7 linked regions of the Homo sapiens genome follow. The protein of the gene in region 4 interacts with the protein of the main gene of each other region in a pairwise test. Each region holds a gene or a part of one and is shown on either strand. Other genes may lie near its edges. The genes, in order: BANF2, FHL5, LCE1A, CFP, GNE, KCTD9 and PRKAB2.

Region 1 (2,703 bases), on a different chromosome or scaffold from region 4:
ATCCTCCCATTTTGAATGGATTTTACTGAGATGTATTTAAATTAATGTTTTTGAAAAATAACATTTATTAAGTGTTAATTGAGCCAGTAGACGTAGGTGTGGGAGGTGCCAAGGTGAAGGTAACAGAAACGAGAGACATAGAGCTGTGTCCAAGGAGAGAGAATATTAATAATAATTAACAATAATTAATAGTAAGTGGCTTACACAAAGCTTTCTCCATAAAGAGAAATGTTCATGATAATACTTAATAATAGTAGTTAATGCTAAGTAGCACTTTTTAGCACTTCTGTCGGCCACGTGCTGCTAGACACCTGACACGTTTTAATCCACCTGATCCTCACATGTACTCACCCCTCCCATTCCCCAGGTGGAGGTACTAAGTCTCCTGTTTTCCTCTGCACTATTCCTGCACTTCCCAACTGTCCACAGTCTGGCCTGGAGGCTAATGCATCCCCTGCCCGTTTTAGAAGTGGCACTGCCAGCATCAGCTGGCCTGTTAGTGAGAGCCTCCACATACCCACAGGCTCAGCAGCCAGGATGCCTGGGAACATGTGGACCCTGGGCAAACTTTCCAGGAATGCTACAGGAAGCCCCGTCTTGCAGCCTCTGGAGCCAAGTGGCAACCTGACACTCCCTCCTCAGTTTTCCCTCCTGTCTCCCTGTGGCATCTTCCAGGAGGGAAAGTTGGCTTCCCTTCTCCCTTCTTCCCTGAGCACTTCACCCTGCTCCCCAGGGAAGCTGGAGTCGTGGGCTCCCATCATGGCCCTGCCAGATGCCCGCTTGGTTTCTCCCCCGGCTCCAGAAAGCCCCCTAATCAAGGAGAAAAGATGCTGCCCCTTTCCCTCCTTGGGCCAGAGCTCCCCAGAATTCAGCTACTGGGGTGGGAGGGGTGACACAGAAACACAGAAACCCTGAGCAGCTGTCCCTGTCCTCCTACCACTCTGGACAGTGGCCGTGGCCATGGCCAAGCCAGGGAATTACATTCCGTCCTGCAGCTGTAAGAGGGGGGGCTCGGCCAGGTGTGGTGGCTCACTCCTGTAATCCCAGCACTTTGGGAGGCTGAGCGGGCAGATCATCTGAGGTCAGGAGTTCGAGACCAGCCTGGCCAACATAGTGAAACCCCATCTCTACTAAAAATACAAAAATTAGCCTGGTATGGTGGCAGCCGCGTGTAATCCCAGCTACTTGGGAGGCTGAGGCAGGAGAACCCAGGAGGTGGAGATTGCATGAGCTGAGATTATGCCACTGCACTCCAGCCTGGGCAACAGAGTGAGACTCTGTCTCGAAACAAACAAACAAAAGGATGGGGGCTCAAGGGCAGAATGCCCCTAAACTCCAAGTGCAAACAGTGAGGTTCCTCCAGGGGCCGGCCCCCAAGCAGGGGAGGAATCACCCTCCAGTTTGCGGTGCCCACTTCTTGCTAAACAGCAGCAGTTTGAGCCTATGCCAGGGTTGGGTTCCCTTGCATCTGAGCCATGTTTTCACACAGCGCCTGGTGCTAAGAGCACCCTGAGCTGGTTTAACACTTGGCTCTTGTCATCTGGAAATTCTTACTAAATTTCTTTTATTTTTTTATTAGTTTTCCTTTTTTTCTTTTTTTTTTTTGACGACGTCTCCCTCTGTTGCCCAGGATGGAGTGCAGTGGCACGGTCTTGGCTCACTGCAACCTCTGCATCCCAGGTTCAAGCGATTCTCCTGCCTCAGCCTCCCGAGTAGGTGGGACTACGGGTGCGTGCCACCACGCTTGGATAATTTTTTGTATTTTCAGTAGAGACAGGGTTTCACCAAGTTAGCCAGGATGGTCTCGATCCCCTGACCTCGTGATCTGCCCGCCTCGGCCTCCCAAAGTGCTGGGATTACAGGAGTGAGCCATCACGCCTGGCCTACTTTTTTTTTTTTTTTTTTTTTTCCTAAGAGACGGGATCTCATTCCGTCACACAGGCTAGAGTTCAGTAGCATGCAGTAGCTCTTGGCAACCATAAATTCCTGGGCTCAAATGATCCTCCCACCTCAGCCTCCCGAGTAGCTGGAACTACAAGCACGTGCCACTACACCCCCTAATAAATTTGAACTAGAGGTCTTGCATTTTCATTTTACAGTGGGCCCTAAAAATTAAATAGCTGGCTGAGATCCACACTTATTAAAATGCTCAGTACTCACCATAATGCTGGGCCTTGTCAAGCAGAGATAAGCTGTCTCTGCCCTCTCTTGTTCTCTAGCTGCTTACAATGCCCTCTGCCCAAGTCCGCAGGTCCTGAGCACCTGTGCTGAACGGACTTCAATCACCACCAGACTCCATGGTGCAGTGACACAACTTTCTTTGATTCTCTCTCGCCAGTCGCCTAAGTCTTCATGTCATTTCAGGTTTAAACTCTTGTGTGTTTTTTTTTCTTCTTCTTTTATTTTGAGACAGAGTCTCACTCTATAGCCCAGGTTGGAGTGCAGTGGCACGATAGCGGCTCACTGCAACCTCCACCTTCCAGGTTCAAGTGATTCTCCTGCCTCAGCCTCCCAAGTAGCTGGGATTACAGGCATGCACCACCATGCGTGGCTAATTTTGTATTTTCTATACAGACGGGATTTCACCATGTTGGCCAGGCTGGTCTTGAACTCCTGACCTCAAGTGATCTTCCCAAAGTTCTGGGATTACAGGCAGGAGCTACCACGCCCGGCTTAAACTCTGTGTCTTTGGTGTGAATCCTC
Region 2 (3,999 bases), on a different chromosome or scaffold from region 4:
ACAGACAATTAACAATATGCCAAGTAGATTAAAAGTTATTTTTTTCTTAAATTCAAAAATGGTATTGCTAACATGAAATGTGTTTTTGGATTGACTTTTCATTTGTGATATTAAATTTGGCAGTTTTTTTTAACCATTTGTGATTAGTGTTATGCATTTTTCATAATGGTAGGCCAATATTTTACTCTAATGAACAATCTAGTGTTTCTTTTTTTTAAGTTATAGCAACGATGTAAGCTTTGAAGCCTGGATTGTAACATAACCACATTTTACTTAACCAGTGGAGCTAGTTTGTCCCAATTTAACACTTTTATAATGCCAAGTTAAAATTGAACCCTTGGGCTTCCTAGTCATTATTATTGAAGCAGAAATACATTTTTGCTTCTTTTGTCATCTTTAATCCCCAACATGACAAAATAAAATATTTTGACTTGTTGACTTGCATACTCATCTTTGCCAACAAATGTAACTCGTGGCCTTCAATGCCTTCTTCCTCTTTCTTTTCACTTTTGTAGCCATTAACCAAACTTATTCCTTCAGTAAGAAACTTAATCCTTGGAACCTTGCTTTCTTTGGTTCTATTCCACAAAGGATCAAAAGCATAATTTTCCTCAAACACTACAATAATTATTTTCTTCCTTTACTTATGAACAGTTGGTAACTTTCTATGGCCGGTTATGTCACTTTTTATCCTAAGAGTTAATATTCTCCCTTCCTCTGACTCTTTCTCTTTTAGCAATCTTATTTTCTCCTGCTCTTCGGCAGTCTCTGCTACTTCCAAGCCATCTGGTTGTTATTGGCACATGGGATTTGCTTTTAACTTCTTTCCTGCCCATGCAGATGTCACCTTTGAATTACTGGGAGCCCACTGTTTCCTGAGTCAGTCCATTTCATCTTTGGATAAGTCCATTAAGGAGTTTTTCTCTTTGTTACATAAACCATATAAATCAACTATATAATTTTTACATTTATCTTTGTGTGTGTTACGCAAAGACCTAAGGAGGTCTTTTTCTTAGTTGTTTTGCATATGTGTGCTATGTCTACATATGTGGTGCTTTGTTTAACCTGCAGGCAAGGATCTTTGCATCAGGCACTTCTGCATTTCCATACCATGATCCATCCTCCTACAACTCCAGACCCACAACAGTATAAGCTCTAACTTTTGGCATAGTACATGTTTAATGGATGTTTGATGTGTAGGATACCTTCTAAATGCAGAACTATTTATATGTAAAAGTATATATATTTATACTTATGAAAGGATAATAAAATCTTTAGGAAATGATTCTGTGAATTTTAATTGTAAAGCTAGAATACAAGTCTGATCATGTGCATACTCACTGCCCCCACACAGTAAAATGCCTAAACATTTCCAATTGTTTAACTAAGAAAACATTACATGTTGTATATGTATCTATAATTGGTTAACAGAGAAGATGTTACATGTTATATATCTATCTAAACCTAAGTGGCTTGGTTTTCTCTATGTGTAATGTGCTATTATTTTCTATATCATAGATTTAGTTCTACCTGTGAAATTTCATATAATGCAGAAAAAATATTGATAGTTTTGCCTGTATTTTTCAATGTGAATATGAAAAAATACCTTGGCATTGTTAATCCAAAAATACATTTATAGTTTTCAAATAGTCTATCTAGCAGAACACTTATTAGTATCTCTAAATTATTAACATCGCTGAATATTCTTGCATTTTAAACTATTTCAAAAATTATTTCCATAACAATTTTAATTGAATCTCCTGTGATGCTATTTTGGTAATTGTAATCAGCAGTATCTTACAATTAGATTTTAATCAAAACCTTTAATGCTATAATGTGTAATCTGAGAGAAGACAGTTATATATCTATGTGGGCTTCTTCTCCTGACCTCCCTCTACTCCATCCAAGAGATGCTATAACCAATGTGAAAACAGATCATGGAGAGCAGAGGTTGCTTTCCATTTGTCCCAAGTAATGTGGAAAATATCCAGGGGTAGCAAGATAGGGTCATGATCAGTTAAAGTCTGGTATAAAGATAAACCTGGTGATGGACTTCTCACTAAGGCTCTTTACTTCCTGTGTGATCAATAAACACTGACTGACTTATAGGACAGTTGCTTAGGGTTAGGAGTGCACCTCCTGGTTATGCAGGAGATTGAAACTGGGGGCACAACTGGCTTGGGGTAAGGGGGGTGTGGCACAGGTGTGGGGGAAGAGTGGGGAGGGCTCGCCTACAGCCCACATTACTCTATTGTGCTGCTTTGCAGGTTCTGAATTATCAGCAGTGAATTATTCTTTTTCAGCTTTTATTATTACTAGATTTCTTTAAAGCCCACTTTTATGTCTGCCCATTAATCATTTATGTAATTTTAGAAGGCAATAATGCATGAGGCACAGAGCTAATTATGCATTCTATTATGTCGTTAGATATCTGGATGAAAGTCATGTTCCAAGACTCAATCCCTTCCCTAAAACTCATTTCCACAAGTGAAGATTTAATGATCTATTTATTTTAAAGGTTTGCCTTTGGGGACAAAGATTATCCTGGTTAGCTCCACTTGAAAGAATAGACTTTTATTTCATGGAATCTGTAAGCGTTTAGAAAAATCACTGTGGACTTTGAAAATATATTTAATACAAAACGTGTTGAAACCCATGCTTTGGCTATCCCTAGGTAGAAATGATCCTCTTTATACCTATGCAGATTATGAGAGCCATAATGTCCTCAGTTCTCATATTCCATTGAGTAAACACAGAACTAGCAAGCTGTGGAAGCAGTGTGTATGAGGGCAAATTGTAGCTTTGTTTTTTAATTCTACAGTCAGTATGTGTGAAAAAAAGGATGATTTTTAAATGATAACAATTCTTAAATGTGATAATTGCTAATGAATTTACTCTGATCAGTTTTGTTCTTTTACCATTCATAGCTAATTTATCACATTACATATAACCAGGAATGCAAACACTAGCCTCATGTATACCTCTCAGTTTGATCTCTTAGTTTTTCTTTTACTCTTCAGGTATGAAAAACCTCATTCTTCAGTAATTACATCCACAGCTCCTAGGTATATGTCATATATTTGATTATGAAGAGATATTTTCCTCTGCTTCTAACAGCAGAGTGCAGTATTTTGCAAGGAGAGTTGTCTTTGTGATTTAGCATATATTCATTTCTGTTCTACTGTGCTTTTTGTGTGCTTAGAATATAGTTCGATCAAAATGTGTGCAAAAACTTTTCCACTCTAAACTACATGAATATTTTCTAAAACTTAAGTCAAAAATAAGACCGCAACTGAGTTCTGGCTTTAGTGACAACGAAGGCAAAATGGATTTTAGGTGGGCAAGGACTGTCTCCTAGATGTCAGTGTCCATTCCGGAGCCACATTTTTGGCAGAAGATTTCCTTGTTCTGGGTCAGGAAGCCTTTACCCACCAAGGAGACAGAGCATTTCCCGCAGTTAAAGCATTCGCTATGCCACTGGCTGTCTTGAAAGCAGATAAACTTGGCACCTGTGAGACCTGTAAAGGAATTGGAGAAAAAGATTAATCTATCCTTTCAAGGAACAGATTGAGCATTCTAGCAGATGCTCCTCTAGGAACTGGAGATAGAGCTATGAGCAAAACAACGCAGAGGCAAATAACCCAAAAAAGAATGCTGCTTCCTGGCCCTGTGTCCATCTGGAACTATCCACTGTAGGAAAGTTACACCTATGCCACCCAACCAGATTCACAGCCAAATTCTGCCATAATCAACAGAAGAAGGCAGAATGCTAATATGCAAGTCAGGTATTTTTGGAAACAGATAAGGTTGTCTAAGCCAGATAAGACAATACAGTGTAGCATAGTGGAAAGAAGGTATAGGTTGTGAAGTCAGAGATATCTAAGTATGAATACATTTCCCCTTTTTCTCTATATGACTTTAAGTTTTCTTAGCTGCAAAATGAAGATAAAAGGAAATAAATGTATGCTTCCTAGTTTGATGTCCAATGTTGTAATGAGT
Region 3 (2,424 bases), on a different chromosome or scaffold from region 4:
TTTTTAAGTTTTTTCAGATCATATTTACCACATGTTCTATGCATACTTGTAGTTAGAATAGTCTAAGATTCATGGTCTGTTTGCAGGAAGTTTACATATAATTTTCTAATATTTTTTACTGAAAGAGAATGAAATTTGGGAGTGAGTGGGCAGTATTGTAAAGGGGAGGAGGGGTAGATGGATGAAAGGATGGGGTGCATATCTGTCTCCCTGCCACACCCTGGAGACCAAGTAGGACCCTGAAGAAGTCCAAAGCACAAGGCTCTGTGTTCCTGAAACACCAGGAAGATGGGCACAGGCAGAGCCACGTAGTGATTCCTCTGACATAAGGTGTCAAAGTAGGAGCCATAGAAGTTTTTCTCTCCCCTCCTCCATATCTTTAGCCATGCGACTAGCACATCTTGATTTCCAAAGCTTCCAGGCAGCAGGAAAGTAGAGAGCAGTGAAAAAAATATTGGAGACACAAACAGGCAAGGAACAGTCCACAATAAGTGGCAAGAAGATCTTTTGCTTTATTGTTTCACTTGAGGCTGCAGGAAATGAGCTGGAGAGTGAGTTTGTGGCTTGGGATCCCAGAGTAGACAACACAGTTGGTGTCAGGGGCAGCAGATAGGTTTGTGGGAGAAGAATCAAGTTTCTGGATCCCAGGGCAGAGGGATCCTCTAGGCCAGAGCTCAGAGCCTTCACGCGGGCATCTCAGCCACTCTTGCAGGCCCAGGAGGAGACAGGTGAGGAGGAAATGTTTGATCACTCATTTCACCCGAGTCTGCTCTTCTAGGTGCAGAGTCCGCTTCAGCAGCAGCCTCCAGAGTGCTGGCCGCTGTCCCCTCCACAGCAGCTGGAGCCTCCCGAGGGCTGGCTGCAGCAGCCAGAGCTCTGGAGTCTGTGACGGTGGGACCTGTGGCGCCTGTGGTGGCTCAGGCAGCAGCCACCTCCCCCAGAGCTGCAGCCGCCCCCAGAGCTGGAGCCACAGCAGCCTCCGGAGCTGACACTGCAGCAGGAAGAGACTGGAGGGCACTTAGGGGGACACTTTGGGGGGCACTTAGGAGTGGGGCACTTGGGAGGGCACTTGGGGGTGCACTTGGGAGGGGGCTGGCACTGCTGCTGGCTCTGCTGGCAGGACATCTCGGCGGTGGGTGTTCAGGAGCTGAAGGAGAGTCAAACAGCAAGTTACAGCCAGGCACAGAGGCCACCCTTATTGCCTTTTTACCATCATTTATTTTTGCTACATTTTTAAAACCTGTTCAAATAAGTCAGAGAGAAATTATCTCTAAAATTGTTTGTCAGATGCTTTCACAATGTGTTATAGGATCATCAGGATGTTTTTATAAAATAGAAATAGACTATCTTATTTTAACCCAGCAATATAATGAGGACATCTGTATTAACAAACTTGCCCAAAATTAATGTCCTTTAAGTGGAAAAGGCAATCTGACATTCACAGAATCTGACTGAAGTCTACCCTTCTGCACCACTTAGAATTCTGAAAATGTCCAATCTAGGAGCCAGTTTAAACCTGCAGTTCTGCTTTTTAAAAAATAAGCAAGAAGACCCTATCTCTAAAAAAAAATTAGCTGGGTATGGTGGCACGCACCTGTAGTCCCAACTACTTAGGAGGCTGAGGCTGGAGGATCGTTTGAGCCCAGGAGGCCAATGCTGCAGGGAGCCAAGGTCATGCCACTGCACTGCAGTCTGGGCAATAGAATGACACTTTGTCTCAAAAATAAATGAAATAAAATAATAAAATAAAAATAAAGATTCCCTTTTGTAGGAGCTTCCCAGATGGCTGTATTTGGTTGACACAAACACACAATATATTATAGTCAGAATTGCAAAGGGTCATCATATGAGCTGGCTATCCCAAATCATATTATAAATGGAGAAATGAGGTCTAAAGCTAATTGTAGCAAGCTGACACGTGACCCTAGATTTCCCGGTCTGGTGAATCCATGCCTAGTGAAGCTCCCTCTTAGAACCCACAGACTCCTCTATCTGCCACCCTGGCAACCATAAATTTCAACTTGTTACTTGCTGTTCAACACTGGAGCTTCTGATATACAGATGCCCAGGCACCACTCATGACTAACTCACTCCTGATGAAGGTGTAAGGGCCATGTATCTCTGTGTTTATCAAGCTCCAAATATGCTTCCTCTGGTCTCCGGTCTCCATTATTTAAGAACCACTATAATCCCAGTACAGGCTTCGGGGAAGAGACACAGTTGAGTTGCTAAGATCTACTCTCTGAAAGGAAAGTTTGTTTTAACTTATCTGGAATGGGAGACACTAAAAAAAATACAGAACTAATTTGGATTAGAGCATGAAGCATAGACATACAAATCATCCAGGTGCTTCCCATCTCTCCTGCCCCACAGCTTGAACTCCATCAGAATTTCTAGACATTCTCCACCTCTTCTAATCCAGCT
Region 4 (4,149 bases):
TCACTTTGGCTCAGTCTTCCCAAGATGACCAAGTAAGTACTCATCAACTTCATCTTCACTTCAACTCATTGACTGGTCCACTTGAATAAGGGGAAAACGAACCAGAGAAGTCAAGTAAGTGTACCAATATACTCTGGGTGTGCATGTCACAAACCTCCTACCCGAACCTTCCCACACAGACGGGTCCCCTCCACCCACAGCACTCTTGACATTTAAGACCTCATCACAATCCATGATGCTTCAAAAATGTCCAGCCTACTACCTTTCTGTGCGTGTTTCCTTTGTAAAATGGGGATAATAATACTTACCCACATGGGTTTGCTGTGGACGAAATGAGTTCATGCTATGGAAAGCCTTAAGACACTACTAAGCACACAGTAAGTACTTTCTAAGTAGTAGCTATTACCATGATTATTATGATTCTTATGATGCGTCTCTTCACAAGGGGCCCGGCATTCAGTAAGTGGTAAATGAATGAGCAAATGCTAAAAGCACTGGTGTCTGGCTTTGTTCCCTTTACTGCGGAGACACGTAACGCTCTGATTCCTCTTCTTCTCTATTCTCCGTGATGTCCAGCACTATTGTTAGTATACAGTAGGCGTTAAGTGTTGAATAGATGTTCACACGAAAGGAATACCTTCTGAGTCTGTTCCCTCACTCAGATGTCCTCTTTCTACCAGCCCTCCTCCACCCTAGATGCTCAGACTCAGCTTTAGCATACAGCAGGCGCTAATAAGTGTTGAATGAATGAACAAATTACCAGAGGAAAGTGTCTGGATTTGTCTTGGGGGCTCCTCCGGGCGGATACTGACTCTAGCTTCTTTGCCCCTCCTCAGCTCAGAGCGCAACACAGGCACTTCCTCGGCCCGCCCCCCGCCTCGCCGAGCTATTTGTCGCTGGTAATTGTGGCATTGGAGCTGGGCTGTCGGGAGTGGGTGGGTGCAGGTGCTCGGGCGGCAGGGTGCCAGCCTCGGCCACGCCTCTGCCGTTCATCCTCGACTGACGCGGAGTCGGAGTCGGCCGGCAGAGGCTCCTCCAGGGTTCCGGCTGGTGGGAATCTAGGGAGGTCCAGGAGACGGGGAGACAACGAACAAGCACGCCGGCCAATCAAGAAGTGCCTGCCAGGACAAGTAGCCAATCAGGAAACCCGTAACGCGGAGCTCTGCAGAGGAACGTGCCGGGCGGCCCTGAGGCTCTAAGGGGGCTGCGCAGGGCCCAGACATTGGGGTTATGGCAGCGGCGGGGAGAGGCTGGGACTGCACACTCGCTTTCACTCCTGCCAACCTGCGACCACAGTGGAAAATACTGTTTTCCGCAACAGGCTGCTGTGTCTTGGCCCGTGCTGTGCTGTTTGCCCTATGAGATGCTATCACCCTACTTTTGGGGAAGGGGATAGGTTGTTTTTCCTCCTTTAAGGAATCGTAGACGAACTCGAAGAGGCTAGTTTATTGAGGTTTGGAAGGTCAGGGGGCTCAGAGTGGAGGAGAGAAGTGTTAGAGTTCCTCTTCCTCAGGGTCTTTGCAAGCAGGCACGTGTAGACATGGTCGTTTCTCCTCCACCACCAGCTTCTGCCCTTGTAGCTCCTCACACCGTGGCAGCGGTCTCCCCCAGAAGGTCACGTTCTTCTCGCCCTGACCTTCGACCATGGAAACGGTGGGCCTGAGGCATTAGGGGTGGGGAGGAACGGAAGGGAGAATCTCAGGGAAGGCAAGAATGCATTCAATTCTTATTGAGTGCCTGCTATATGCCGAGGGCTACTTTTTTTTTTTTTTTTTTTCCTTTTTTTTTTTTGAGGCAGGGTCTCACTCTGTTGCCCAGGCTGCAGTGCAGTGGCACAATCATAGCTCACTGCAGCCTCAATCTCCTGGGCTCAAGTGATGCTCCTGCCTCAGCCTCCCAAAGTGTTGCTGGGATTACAGGCGTGAGCCACTGTGCCTGGCCTCCCAACACTACTTTTTAGCTATAGGATATTGGGCAATTTCTTTAGCTTCTCTGTGCCTCGGTTTCCCTCATCTGCAAAATGAGAATGGTAGGAATAGTAATATTAATACTCACCTCACGGGGTTGAATGAGGATAAATGAGTTAATTCAGGTAAAGTGCTCAGAGCAGTGCCTGGCACACAGCAAGTGCTCAATAAATGCTGGTGAATGTTACTTGTTGGCATGAGCTACTTTCTTTTACCTCCGAAATATATACCCTTTATATCTCTTTCCACTGCCTCCAGGAAAAAACCCAATGCCTTGTCCTGACATTCAAGGCCTTATTGTTGGGCCCAAATCCCTGCCCCAAGCCAATCTCTCTCTCTGTCTCCTCCACTTTATTCAAGCTCAGTCCCTGTCCAGAAAGGTCTTTACCTGGGTTATTTGTCCCACTAGGAAAGCCCTCCATTCACTCCCATCCCAGTTCTCTCAATTGCTTCTTCCTCCACTCAGTCTCTCGCTCACTCAAGTCCTTTGTGCCTCCATTCAACACCTCTAATCTTCAGGCCCCACTCTAACCCCCTCAGCCGGGAGATCCCTTCCCAGATGGCAGCCCTTCCACGAGCTGGGAATAGTTCACTTAATCTAGTAGCTTGATGTATGTGGAAGGAAGAAAAGGGATGAACATTTTAACCCTCTCTAACACCTGGGCCCCTCTGGCACCTGGAAACACTTATAGCGGCTAATCACCTAGCTCCAAGGCTCCGTTCACAGTCTTGATGCCAGGAATGCCTTTCCCAACCCCTACCTGCCCTGGGAGGCCCAGTCAGCTTCCTGGACCTAGGTTGAGGTGGCAGCACCTGTTGCATGCACCAGCTGTTCCTCATATGCCTCCTGTCAGGGGCTTGCTCAGCTGGGTCCCTTGGAGGATCCACAGGATCTGGGCTGTGTGTATCTGCAACTGTTGCTGAAAAAGCCTTGGAGTGCCTTGGCTCAGTGAGATGCTGACAAAGTGGATGGAGGCATGAGTGACTGTGGGAGGCAGGCAGTGAATGGAGGCCTGAGTGATGGCAGCTAAAAGCATGGGTAACTGAAGGTCGGAGTCAATGACACATGAAGGACTAAGTGGATGAGTGACTGAACAGGTGACTGAGGGGCACAGAGGCTACGAATTATCCTCCAAGAACTTCTTTCTCATCTTCTTAGTTTCTCCCCACTTCCTGCAGCTGGGAGGTGGCACTCGGCAAGGCAGATACCTTAGATTCAGCAGTGGAAACCCTGGTTTCCTGGGGTAGCCGACTCTCCCGCCTGTAATATAATGACCCCCTCCCAGGCATACTTTGCCCTCTCACTCACGGGTACTTGGGGAGCAAGGGTGTGCAGAGGCGCTGGCGGGCACGGGTAGGATTAGGTCCACAGGGGGGCATGCACAGCCCCCAGGTACTCCACTCTGACCATGATCCTTTCACTGCAATGAGGGGTAGGGGTCACAGAGTCAGAACTGGAGGTCTTGGTGGGAAAGTGAGAGGGAGGCTGCAGAGACGTGAGGTCCACAGCAGAGAGTTGGAAACCCCTTATCCTGCATGGGCCACCCCACCCTCAGAGCACAGTCTGTGGGACACTCACAGGGGCAGTGCTGGATGCTGTAGCAGTGCCGGATATCCTGCTGTTGCCCGGCACATCGATGTCCGTCAAACTTGCGGCCCCTGCAGGTCCTCCCGCGTGACTGCTGGCCCGGGATTTCTTGACAGCTGATGGACTTCATGTTCCGTCGGATACAGGGGCTCCACTCCCCCCACGAGTCCCACTCCCCATCCACTGCAGAGACAGGGCAACAGGGGATTGGACCAAAGCAGGGAATCAGCAAGGGGGTTCAGAGGAAGGAATGAGGGCGGTAGGAGGGAGTAGAGGTGATCAGATGTGTGAATGGGGGACCAGGGGTGGAAACAAGGTATCAGGGCCAGGAAAGGAGGAATCAGAGACAGGAACAAGGCCTCAGCAGCAGGAGCTGGGCAGCAGAGAAGGGCAAGGGGGACTTAGGCATGCAAATCGTGAACCCTGAGATGCTGACCAGGGCAGGGCACAGCTGTGTTGCAGATGTGGGTCCGGGTGGCATCGCCAGCACAGAAGGGGCCCCCATGCTGGGGCACAGGGTGATTGCACGTCCGTTGTTCCATGGTCTGGCCCAGGCCACAGGTCACAGGGCAGGGGCTCACAGGGCCCCAAGGC
Region 5 (3,500 bases), on a different chromosome or scaffold from region 4:
CAAAAACTAGAAGTCTTTTTAGACCAGGGAAAAGTAAAACGCAAGACAATGAGCCAGAGCAACTCATCCCTGGCAAGAATACATTTCATACAAAGTTTGCACCTGCTTCTCCACCTGGCACTTCTGATATTATTACCAGTCTTTGTATCTATCCATAATTCAGCAGCCTCAGCCCTTTCATAAATCCTTTCCATAAAGGCATTTTGTTTTCTGTTGTAAAGTCCTATATTTACTGTGATATGCCTTTCATTATTAGGAATTTAACATGCCTTTTTAACATTGCTAATTTTAAAATTAAGATTGTTATATATTAACACTCTGGTTACAAAGCTGCAATGTTATATATGGCCTACCCAACCCTATCTTCCTGTAAGCAGAGTGATAGCATGAGAAGTTCCATATTAAGGCCAGGTGCGGTAGCTCATGCCTATAATCCCAGCAGTTTGGAGGGCTGAGGAGGGCGGATCACCTGAGGTCAGGAGTTCGAGACGAACTTGGCGAACATGATGAAGCCCCATCTCTACTAAAAATACAAAAATTAGCCAGGTGTGGTGGTGTGCGCCTGTAGTCCCAGCTACTCAGGAGGCTGAGGCAGGAGTATTGCTTAAACCTGGGAGGCAGAGGTTGCAGTGAGTCGAGACTGCGCTAATGCACTCCAGCCTAGGTGACAGAACTCCAGCCTTGGCAACAGAGCAAGACTCTGTCTCAAAAAAAAGAAAAAAAAAAAGAAGTTGCATATCAAGAAGCAGGAACAGGTTTTATATAAAATGTATTACTGCCCAGTGGTGGATGGCTCTGCCTCATTGTCTTGAGTTTTCTTTTTCACTGGTTTAAAGACCAAAAAAAAAAAAAGCAATTTTAGCTGTTCTGTTGTCCTTCTTTCCATAAAGAACTGCTTAAATTGTCCCAAATAGGACTTTAAGCCCTACAAGTACAATTCAATTTTGCTACATTCTGCTTTCTAATGGTTATTTGCTGTTTTTTGTTTTGAGACGGAGTCTCGCTCTGTTGCCAGATTGGAGTGCAGTGGCGCGATCTCGGCTCACTGCAGCCTCCGCCTCCTGGGTTTCATGCAATTCTTCTGCCTCAGCCTCCCAAGTACCTGGGACTACAGGTGTGCGCCACCATGCTCAGCTAATTTTTGTATTTTTAGTAGAGATGGGGTTTCACCATGTTGGCCAGGATGGTCTCAATCTCTTGACCTCATGATCTGCCCGCCGTGGCCTCCCAAAGTGCTGGGATTACAGGTGTGAGCCACCGCATCTGGCCTGGGTTTTATGCTTGTTTTTTTTTTTTTTTTTTTTTTTGAGATGGAGTCTCGCTTCTTCACCCAGGCTGGAGTGTGGAGTGCAGTGGTGCAATCTCGGCTCACAGCAACCTCCCTGGGTTCAAGCAATTCTCCTGCCTCAGCCTCCTGAGTAGCTGGGAGTACAGGCATGTGCCAGCACACCTGGCTAATTTTTGTATTTTTACTAGAAATGGGGTTTCACCATGTTGGCCAGGCTGGTCTCCAACTCCTGACCTCAAGTGATCCACCTGCCTGGGCCTCCCAAAGTGCTAGGGTCACAGGCATGAGCCACTGGCACCTGGCCAAAACTAGTGTTTTGTTTTTTTGAGACAGGGTCTTATTCTGTCACCGAGGCTGGAGTGCAGTGGCACAATCATGGCTCACTTCAGTCTTGAACTCCCAGACTCAAGCAATCCTCCCACTTCAGCCTCCGGAGTAGCTGGGACTACAGGCACACACCATCACACCCGGCTGATTTTTGTATTTTTTGTAAAGACAGAGTTTCACCACGTTGCCCAGGCTGTTCTCAAACCCCTAGGCTCAAGTGATCTGCCCACTTTGGCCTCTCAAAGTACAGAGATTACAGGCATGTGCCACCACATCTGGCACATTATTATTTTCTATTCATTACAAGTTTTTCAGTGATACAAGTTTTCCAGAATACCTAGAGAGCTAATGGTATAATTAGAACAGAATCCAAGAGTGTTTCATCGGAAGCATACTAAAAGGAGAGACTGAAGAGACAGAAGGTTGTTCCACCAGCATTATCTAGACGATCCCTTGATAATTACAAATCTGTCCAAGCATAAGAAATATTTAGAATGGGCCAGGTGCGGTGGCTCATGCCTATAAACCCAGCAGTTTGGGAGGCCGAGGCAGGAGGATTGCTTGAGCCTAGGAATTCATGACTAGCCTGGGCAAAATAGTGAGACCCCATCTCTACAAAAAAATTTTAAAAATTAGCTGGGCATGGTGGTACATGCCTGTAGTCCCAGCTACTCAGGAGGCTGAGGTGGTAGGATCACTTGAGCCCAGGAGGACAAGACTGCACCACTGCACTCCAGACTGAACAACAGAAATATGTAGAATGGAGTACGTTATATAGCAGGAAAGCCCAATTCCTTTCCTGATGTAATGTAATCTAGATTAAAAATATACAAAATCTCTTTGCTTATTCAATTTTCTTTTTCTTTCTGTGTTTTTTTTTTGTTATTGTTTTTTGTTTTTTTTTGTTTTGTTTTGTTTGAGACAGGGTCTTACTCTGTCACCCAGGCTAGAGTGCAGCAGTGTAATCACAGATCACTGTAGCCTCAACTACTCAGGCTCAAGTGACCCTCCCATCCCAGCCTCCCAGGTAACTAGGACTACATGCACACAGCACCACGCCCAGCTAATTTTCTTATTTTTTGTAGAGACAGCGTCTTGCTATGTTGCCCAGGCTGGCCTTGTAACTCCTAGGCTCAAGCAATACTCCCACTTCAGCCTCCCAAAGTGCTGGGATTACAGGGTGAGCCACCATACCTGACCCAACCAAATCAATTTTCTGTTCATTAATTTTATAATTCAATAGATCTGCCTCTTAGAAATGAAAGGTCCTAAATAGATTATTAGTCCTAATTTGTCCCCTAGGTAGTACTCTTACTATAAATTAACCAACTGACATTCTGTTTGTAAACTTGGATTTTTTTACCTCTGATTAGCAAAAGATAATTTCTAGGAAGCTAGAGCACTGAACAATAAAAATTTTGGAACATAGGGCTTATTTACAAAGATATACTCTAAGGCTACAACTATGACTTTTGCTTTTTAATAATCATCATAATCCCTTATATTAATAAGTACTTATGGCTTACTGCTTCCAACATTCATAATCTGAGTATTCCAACAATTCTATAAGAAAAGCATTAAAAATAAAAATGAGCCAGGCGCGGTGGCTCATGCCTGTAATCTCAGCACTTTGGGAGGCCGAGGTGGGCGGATTATGAGGTCAGGAGTTTGAGACCAGCCTGACCAACATAGTGAAACCCCGTCTCTACTAAAAATACAAAAAAAAATTAGCCAGGTGTGGTGGTGTGCGCCTGTAACCCCAGCTACTCAGGAGGCTGAGGCAGGAGAATCGCTTGAACCCGGGAAGTGGAGGTTGCAGTGAGCCGAGACTGAGCCACTGCACTACAGGCTAGGCAACAGAGTAAGACTCCATCTCAAAAAAAAA
Region 6 (3,500 bases), on a different chromosome or scaffold from region 4:
CAAACATCTTTTTTTTTTTGTCCTTAACACAAACAAAGATGCCTCTCGACATTTCACTATTTAAAGATTAGGTCCTTCAAACGTTTTTTTGATGTTAGTCTTTTTCCTGTTTTGCTACTAACCTGACCCTTCATGATAAGACAGAATAAAGGACAGTGAAAGTAACTAAAATGCATATTTGGTAGATTTTGTTACTCGCCCTGATACACAGCTTCATGGAAAAATAAGCTGCAGCTAATGAGTAAAACCCAAATTAGAGTAATTCAATAAATGACTACCAAAAGCAAGATGGTATTAATTCAAAAGACATACAGACACGGGCCTTGGTGGTAAGGAACTTAAAGTTGTTAAAAATTAATAGATTTCATTGTTGGTCTGCATATATCCTCTAACTTCAAATAAACACAGATAACTGTTATAAATACATACATATACATATATATAAATATACACATATATGTAGAGAGAGGGAAAACGCCACTGAGATGTTAACTTCCACAAACTGATGCATACCATGTTTATTTCAAAATATCTGTCAAATACTTCTTGAGCAGTAACATTTTCCCATTCCAGAAATGAGGCTGAATAGATTTCAAGGTTCCTTTCAGCTTTACCTTTACAATTAGCTGAAAATATGAGTCCTGATAAATAAAGTACAGTATATTGAGGAGATCAAGAACTAATTCCAAGATTTAATTTCTTATTAGTTACTAAACCTTTCAAGTCTATGTTTAATAAAGGATATCAAACCTGTAAAACCAAATTCATTTCACTTTCAGACCTTTAGTCTTATATCAACATAATAAATTATCTGTTTTCAAGTAAAAGCTCCAGTAAAAGATAGTTATAATTCCTGTCTCAAAGGCTCTTTGAGACTGTTCAATAGACTAAACATTTAATTTTCTCTTGTAGCCTAAAATGATACTTACGTCAAGCACTGATCCAGAGAGATCAGCTCGTTCAAGATTTGCACAGCAAAGATTTGCATGTGCAAGATTACAGCGGCTTAAATTGGCCATTTTGAAGTTAATGTATCGAAGGTCCAAACGAGAAAGATCAGCACCACTGAAGTTCAAACCCTGAAATAAAAAAGCACAAATTGTCACCATAACTAAATCGTCTGTTTGTATTAAATTTAATTACTATAGCTAACCACCAAGTTTTTTTTAGAAGCAATTGGCAGTTCAGTCACTTGGAGTTTATTACAGAACATGATAAAATGGAACTTAGATACATAAAAGAAGTGTCCTTAAATAGGTTCCTCATAAAAGAAACTCTATCAATATATACATTAGAATATAGCCCGGCTATAATTCATTTCTGTGTAGAAGCTTCTAAAGAGGGATCCCTGTTAGTCCTATACCTGCTAATAAGTATTTAAACCTAATTATATTTAAATTATTTTATTAATTCAGTAATTCAAAACAGTTTATTAGGCAAAAATGAGTACTGTGGTCTTTACAATTTGAAATGCTATAGTACACATAAGTAAAGTACCTGCCACTGATCAGCCCATATATTGCAAATGTACAAATACTGACTTTTAAAAAACTGCTGCAATTTCTATGCATTATTCATAAACTGTTGCATGAGGTATAATTAGACAATTTAAAAAGGCTATTATTGCATCTCTTTTTCGTTAACCATTTCAGAACTAAATCAATGCTATGACTCATAATTAAATTAGATCTTGCATGTAAAAGAAAAACAAAGCAAGATAATCCCAAAACACTAGAAGAATGTAAAATTTTATTCATAGATTTGCTGATAGAAATAATTGATGTAAAAGCCTGCTAATTACCTGGCATCGCAGTTCTGACTTGGTTGGAGTTGCTAGCAAAAATCGGACAAATTCCTTTCGGGATATTGGTGAATGATCCTCCGGTGGTTGAGAATTCTTAAAAAAGACATTAAGAAATTAGTGGAGTCTTTTGGGAGATAGCTACAATGAATGTAACACTGGCTAATGTAAAAACAGGCTTACCTTTATTGCCACTTCTAGGTGTTCAATCAATGAGTCAATACCAAAAAATCTTGCTTCTTCTAACACACCTATCAGAACAAAAATAATTCTGAAACAACCTAATTTAGTGAATGTATTACATTCATTTTGAATTTACTAAAATACGATTAGTTCACATAATCTTAACATTTAATTGCCTTTTTAAATGGAGCAGATCTGAACAGGTTTGCCACAAGTATCTTTTACATACTGAATCAGAAAATGATAGAAATGAATAAAAGTTTAAAAAGTACAAAAAAGTCAAAAGTATAATTCAGAAATCTGTCTTATAGGAGAATAAATTTTAAAATATTTGTAAATACTAAAAGAGCTTTCATTTATCATTTACTTTAACTTGGTAAAAAAAAATGTACATCCTTTACATGACTTGGTATATTTACTTATTCTAATCTGTTAATAAACATCATCAGAATGTGTGGGAATACATTTGGGTTCCATTATCTTTCAAATGAGAAGACCTCAATCAGTTGGCTGTTGACTCAGTAAAAAACTACTTAGAACTCTGGAATTACAAAGAAAGTATCAGACATAATCCCTCCCTTCAAACACTTACAAGCTAATAAGGGTAAGTAGATACAGAAAACCAGAAGCAGTTATTTGGGAAGAATAATACAATCTTTTCTGTGAAGACCAAACTCTATGGTCAACAATCCAATTGTAAAACAAACGTCATCCAAGGTACAGCATCGGGCTACCACTCTGGCATACAGGGTCCACATTTCCCCTTCAAGAGGCATCCAAAGATTATGCCATTCCGTTCGGATATATATCCCTGGTGGAAACTCAACATATTATAAAAGAGGTTCTTGTGGGCCACGCTCTCAATTTGCCAAGGTCTAAGTAAAGCAGAACTCTTAGGGAATGCAGCCAGGATACGTTTCCAATTCTAGGTTTAGAATTAAACCTTTAAAACATCCAGAGAAGCCATAGAAATACAAAAGACAGGCCGGGCTCACACCTGTAATCCCAGCACTTTGGGAGGCTGAGGTGGGTAGATCACTTGAGGTCAGGAGTTCGAGACCAGCCTGGCCAACACATGGTGAAACCCTGTCTCTACTAAAAATACAAAAAATTAGCCAGGCGTGGTGGCAGGTGCCTGTAGTCCCAGCTACTCGGGAAGCTGAGGCAGGAGAATGGCGTGAATCCAGGAGGCGGACCTTACAGTGAGCCGAGATCGCGCCACTGCACTCCAGCCTGGGTGACACAGCAAGACTCCATCTCAAAACAAAAAAAATACAAATATTAGCTGGGCATCATGGTGTGTGCCTGTAATCCCATCTACTTGGGAAGTTGAGGCAGGAGAATCACTTGAACCCAGGAGGCATAGGTTGCAGTGAGCAGAGATCACACCATTGCACTCCAGCCTGGGTGACAGAGCGAGACCCTGTCTCAAAAAAAAAAAAAAAAAAAAAAAAAAAAAAAAAATCTGGATTTGAATCCCAGCTCTGCCACTCACTACTTTTTGGTGTTAGTGAAA
Region 7 (3,500 bases), on a different chromosome or scaffold from region 4:
AGTTATTCTTAACAAAGACACTAATATTTCTGTGAGTATCCTGAGTATTACTGGGGCATCTGGGGGTGTCTAGGACCATTTGGACCAAAGTTCAGTAATCCTAGAGGTTAGGATTACTACAGAGGTGTGTTGAGATTATAAGTCATACACATACCAATAACATTACAGATTTCCTTTTTCCAGTGGTGAGTCACAGCTTTTTCAGGTACTGATATAAAAATTCATAGTTGTCTCCTCATCCTAATAAAATCAGGATCAGAGCTATGGACTTCTTTTGAGCACAACATAAAGGAGTAGTTATCATTTGGGGGTGTACAAAAGAACTATGAAAGCTTTTTTGTATATAATTCATGTCTCTATTCAATCTACTTGATTCCTACTATGATTGTTTTTGCCTTGTAACACAACTCTTCCTTGTGTGTTGTGGGCAAGATTTTTGTTTTAGCTCTCTTAAGGAAGATTAGTAGATGCTGAGGCATGAGATTTCTGCCCTGGACTGATAATTTTTCTAATTTTCTGTAATAGGATTGTATTATTGATACATACTAGAGTGGGTGCATTATTGAAAAGAGATAGCGCATTCTAGTTTAAATTTCTCAAAGAGCTCTGAGGAAGAGTAAGCTGTTTGGTTTGTCTGTGCATTAATTTCATTTAGTAATTTTTTTAGTAATTTTTTTCTCTTTCTCTTAGTGTGACCCAGCCTTACTCCCTGAGCCCAACCATGTTATGCTGAACCATCTCTATGCATTGTCCATTAAGGTAAGTGGTGGCCCTGGCTCTTCACAGAGCTCCCTGGAATGAGAGGTCAAGGGTAACATACGTTCTCAGTGGTTACTTTCTCTGCTATTTCATTGAAGCTGAAGCTGGCAGTAATGATCAAATTATAGAAGAACTCTCTTTTTTTTAACTACTAGGTTGTTTGTTTTAAAATCTCAGTCTCTGTGTTCTGGCTGGCTGAATTGCCCTCTGATAGGACTTTTTTGCTGCCCAGTTATTTTTTGGGTGACTAGAATCTTTACACTAACTGTTTACTTAAGTTTGTGTTCATAGCATAGGATTTCTTCTGCAGAAAAAGCAGGTTTAGCTTCCAGTTCAAAGAATGCTTGAATGTGATATTAAGGCTTTCATTTTTTGAAGGTGGAATTGAGCTACTTTCAGGTGCCTCATTCATATATACTCAGGTGCTTGCATCTCTCCTATACACTAGTTAAAGGAGAGATGTGACCAGATTTGCCCTGTCCCGTCAACTCTAGAGTCCTCCTTGGTTTTTCTGCTGCTTTAGAGTCTGGGTTGGAAATAGCCATTCTGTTCTGTCTTGTTATGTCTTTGTGGTTTGGCTATTGGAATAAAGTTATATAGCTCTGCAGTTATCAAACCAGGCTGATTATCATTAGAGTCTCCTGGAGAAGATTGTAAAAATACAGATTCAGCAGCTCCATTCCTAGAGATTCTGAATAAGTGCATCTAGGATGGGCCCTATAATTTTTTTAAGCTGCTTTTACTTGGATATATAGCTGGATTCGGGAAATCACTGATATAGCTAACAAACTATGTGGTACAATATAACACTTAAAAATATATTATTGAATTTAATTTTTATAATAACGTTGTAAGTATTTTTAACTCCTGTTTTATAGATAAAGAAACTAAGGCTCAGAGAAGGTCAAATTGCCAGTAAGTACCAGAGACAGGACTGCTGAGGTCCAGTCCTCCTATGCTGACTTCATATTCTTTCCTATATTATCATTATGCCAGGTCTTTCCAAGTAGGTTTTTCTCAGGTATTCCTCATTTCCACAAAACCTGTGGAAGTGTAAAAGTGAATTGTTTACCTGCCTTGCTTCTGTCGTATTTAGGCTTTGTGTCAGCATGACTCTGGAGTGTTAACCCGAGAAGCATTCATGGTGGATAATACAGTACGGGGGAAGGTAGAAGGATACACTTGTTCTTAATCGGATTTGCTTGGGTTCTTTGGGATCTGATGGATTTTGCCTCCTGTAACTGCTCCTTGGATGTCATTTAATTTGCCTAGGCTTGCCATCTCCTCCTGTGGTACATCTGTAGTCTACAACACAGCCTGGGAAATGGTACCTCTTGCTGTCTTCTTACTGGTTCTGACTCAGGTGAAGGTGTTTGATTATTGTGGCTTAGCTTGGTTCTGACCCATTCCTGATTCTCTCATATTGTTTAGGCAGTTTGGAATTGATCCATTGGATTGGGTGTCTTTCTGAAGAGGATTTTGACATCTACTTTGTTCAAGGATAGAGAGGGATTCCTAGGTTCCCTCTAAATCAGAGAGATCTTTTGGAAGTCATCCCTGGTTTTAAATGAAAATTAGACCTGCTTTGGGACTTGGAAATAGTTTTTCAGAAGGATTGTTTCTTTTTTTCCTCATTGTCTTTAAGACTTTCTTCTAGAAATGGATGCCAGAATATTTTGTTCTTTTTTGTTTTTCTTGCTAGTTTTAGGCCCAACATTAGAATTTAAAGTAGGGAAGGGAGCAAGGTAGGAGACTATTATTTCTTCAGCCCTTTTATGTGTCAGAAACTGTGTCAGATATTCTCATGTAATCATCAGAGCAACCTTAATGGTAGGTGTTATCTTTTGTAATGATGAGATAAAAAGACTTGGACACACTAAGTAGATTACCCAAGGCCACAAGTAGAATGATGATAGGAGTCAGAATTGGAACTAAAACTTATTTGACCTCCTGCTCTTATATCAAACTATCTCTGTTAAAAGTGAGTGACTGTGAAGGACTGATGACTGGGAAGAGCTACCTACTGTCTGAAGTAATGAATTAGCTGCGTATGTTTCTTTTCCTTGCAGGACAGTGTGATGGTCCTTAGCGCAACCCATCGCTACAAGAAGAAGTATGTTACTACTCTGCTATACAAGCCCATTTGAAGGGATCCCTTCTTGCCTCTAAGGATTCAGGAGAAGCATCTCCCTTGCATTTCTGGACTGAACCAGTCTTACCTGAGACTGGAAGGCTGATTTGCTTTGAGGCTGATATGTGTGTTTCAGAGCCTCTGAGTAGGATGCTCTGCTTTTGCATTTGATTGCAGATGAGAGCTTTATGAGTTCACGGAATTTATTTTAAGAAAAAAAAATATACATATGAGAAGAAGGTAAATGGAAGCCTCCTAGCCCCAGCTAGAAGTATTGTTTCTGCCTGTGGGTTTTCACCAAGACCTGTTTGGGGGCGCTGCAGGAATAACTATATAGGAAGATTTTTCCTAAAATGAAAGAACAGCAAACTCTTAGGATCCTTGTTGGGTGGAGATTCTATCACTGCTACCTTGGCTCTCCAAGGAATGGGCTTGTGCTAGACCGCTGCCCTACTTAACAGCTGCCTCATTGCAAGGGCAGTTTTTCTTGCATGGGTTCTCTATATTCCCAGAGTATGTGGCACAATCTGTGTTGTTTATATGATACCAGATGCCCCACAAGAACCCTTATTCCTCTCATTTCACATTCTTCCTTTAATAGCCTCCTTCA

Evidence for each region.
Region 1: the proteins of CFP (region 4) and BANF2 interact in binary tests that used the Homo sapiens proteins (3 or more experiments, as listed by UniProt).
Region 2: the proteins of CFP (region 4) and FHL5 interact in binary tests that used the Homo sapiens proteins (3 or more experiments, as listed by UniProt).
Region 3: the proteins of CFP (region 4) and LCE1A interact in binary tests that used the Homo sapiens proteins (3 or more experiments, as listed by UniProt).
Region 5: the proteins of CFP (region 4) and GNE interact in binary tests that used the Homo sapiens proteins (3 or more experiments, as listed by UniProt).
Region 6: the proteins of CFP (region 4) and KCTD9 interact in binary tests that used the Homo sapiens proteins (3 or more experiments, as listed by UniProt).
Region 7: the proteins of CFP (region 4) and PRKAB2 interact in binary tests that used the Homo sapiens proteins (3 or more experiments, as listed by UniProt).

The regions. Positions count from the first base shown.
Region 1 is NC_000020.11:17,730,966-17,733,668, reverse strand, and holds part of BANF2 (barrier-to-autointegration factor-like protein), read right to left. Parts: intron 1-2,703. UniProt on the Homo sapiens protein: May play a role in BANF1 regulation and influence tissue-specific roles of BANF1.
Region 2 is NC_000006.12:96,615,128-96,619,126, reverse strand, and holds the end of FHL5 (four and a half LIM domains protein 5), read right to left. Parts: intron 3,519-3,999; coding exon 3,355-3,518; 3' UTR 501-3,354; downstream 1-500. UniProt on the Homo sapiens protein: May be involved in the regulation of spermatogenesis. Stimulates CREM transcriptional activity in a phosphorylation-independent manner.
Region 3 is NC_000001.11:152,826,174-152,828,597, reverse strand, and holds LCE1A (late cornified envelope protein 1A), read right to left. Parts: upstream 1,126-2,424; coding exon 793-1,125; 3' UTR 501-792; downstream 1-500. UniProt on the Homo sapiens protein: Precursors of the cornified envelope of the stratum corneum.
Region 4 is NC_000023.11:47,622,782-47,626,930, forward strand, and holds the end of CFP (properdin precursor), read right to left. Parts: coding exon 3,992-4,149; intron 3,739-3,991; coding exon 3,547-3,738; intron 3,389-3,546; coding exon 3,277-3,388; intron 1,660-3,276; coding exon 1,494-1,659; 3' UTR 501-1,493; downstream 1-500. UniProt on the Homo sapiens protein: A positive regulator of the alternate pathway (AP) of complement. It binds to and stabilizes the C3- and C5-convertase enzyme complexes. Inhibits CFI-CFH mediated degradation of Complement C3 beta chain (C3b).
Region 5 is NC_000009.12:36,241,449-36,244,948, forward strand, and holds part of GNE (bifunctional UDP-N-acetylglucosamine 2-epimerase/N-acetylmannosamine kinase), read right to left. Parts: intron 1-3,500. UniProt on the Homo sapiens protein: Bifunctional enzyme that possesses both UDP-N-acetylglucosamine 2-epimerase and N-acetylmannosamine kinase activities, and serves as the initiator of the biosynthetic pathway leading to the production of N-acetylneuraminic acid (NeuAc), a critical precursor in the synthesis of sialic acids.
Region 6 is NC_000008.11:25,434,434-25,437,933, forward strand, and holds part of KCTD9 (BTB/POZ domain-containing protein KCTD9), read right to left. Parts: intron 2,053-3,500; coding exon 1,985-2,052; intron 1,898-1,984; coding exon 1,802-1,897; intron 1,080-1,801; coding exon 930-1,079; intron 1-929. UniProt on the Homo sapiens protein: Substrate-specific adapter of a BCR (BTB-CUL3-RBX1) E3 ubiquitin-protein ligase complex, which mediates the ubiquitination of target proteins, leading to their degradation by the proteasome.
Region 7 is NC_000001.11:147,158,971-147,162,470, reverse strand, and holds part of PRKAB2 (5'-AMP-activated protein kinase subunit beta-2), read left to right. Parts: coding exon 1-31; intron 32-690; coding exon 691-759; intron 760-1,637; coding exon of another isoform or gene 1,638-1,674; intron 1,675-2,828; coding exon 2,829-2,906; 3' UTR 2,907-3,500. UniProt on the Homo sapiens protein: Non-catalytic subunit of AMP-activated protein kinase (AMPK), an energy sensor protein kinase that plays a key role in regulating cellular energy metabolism.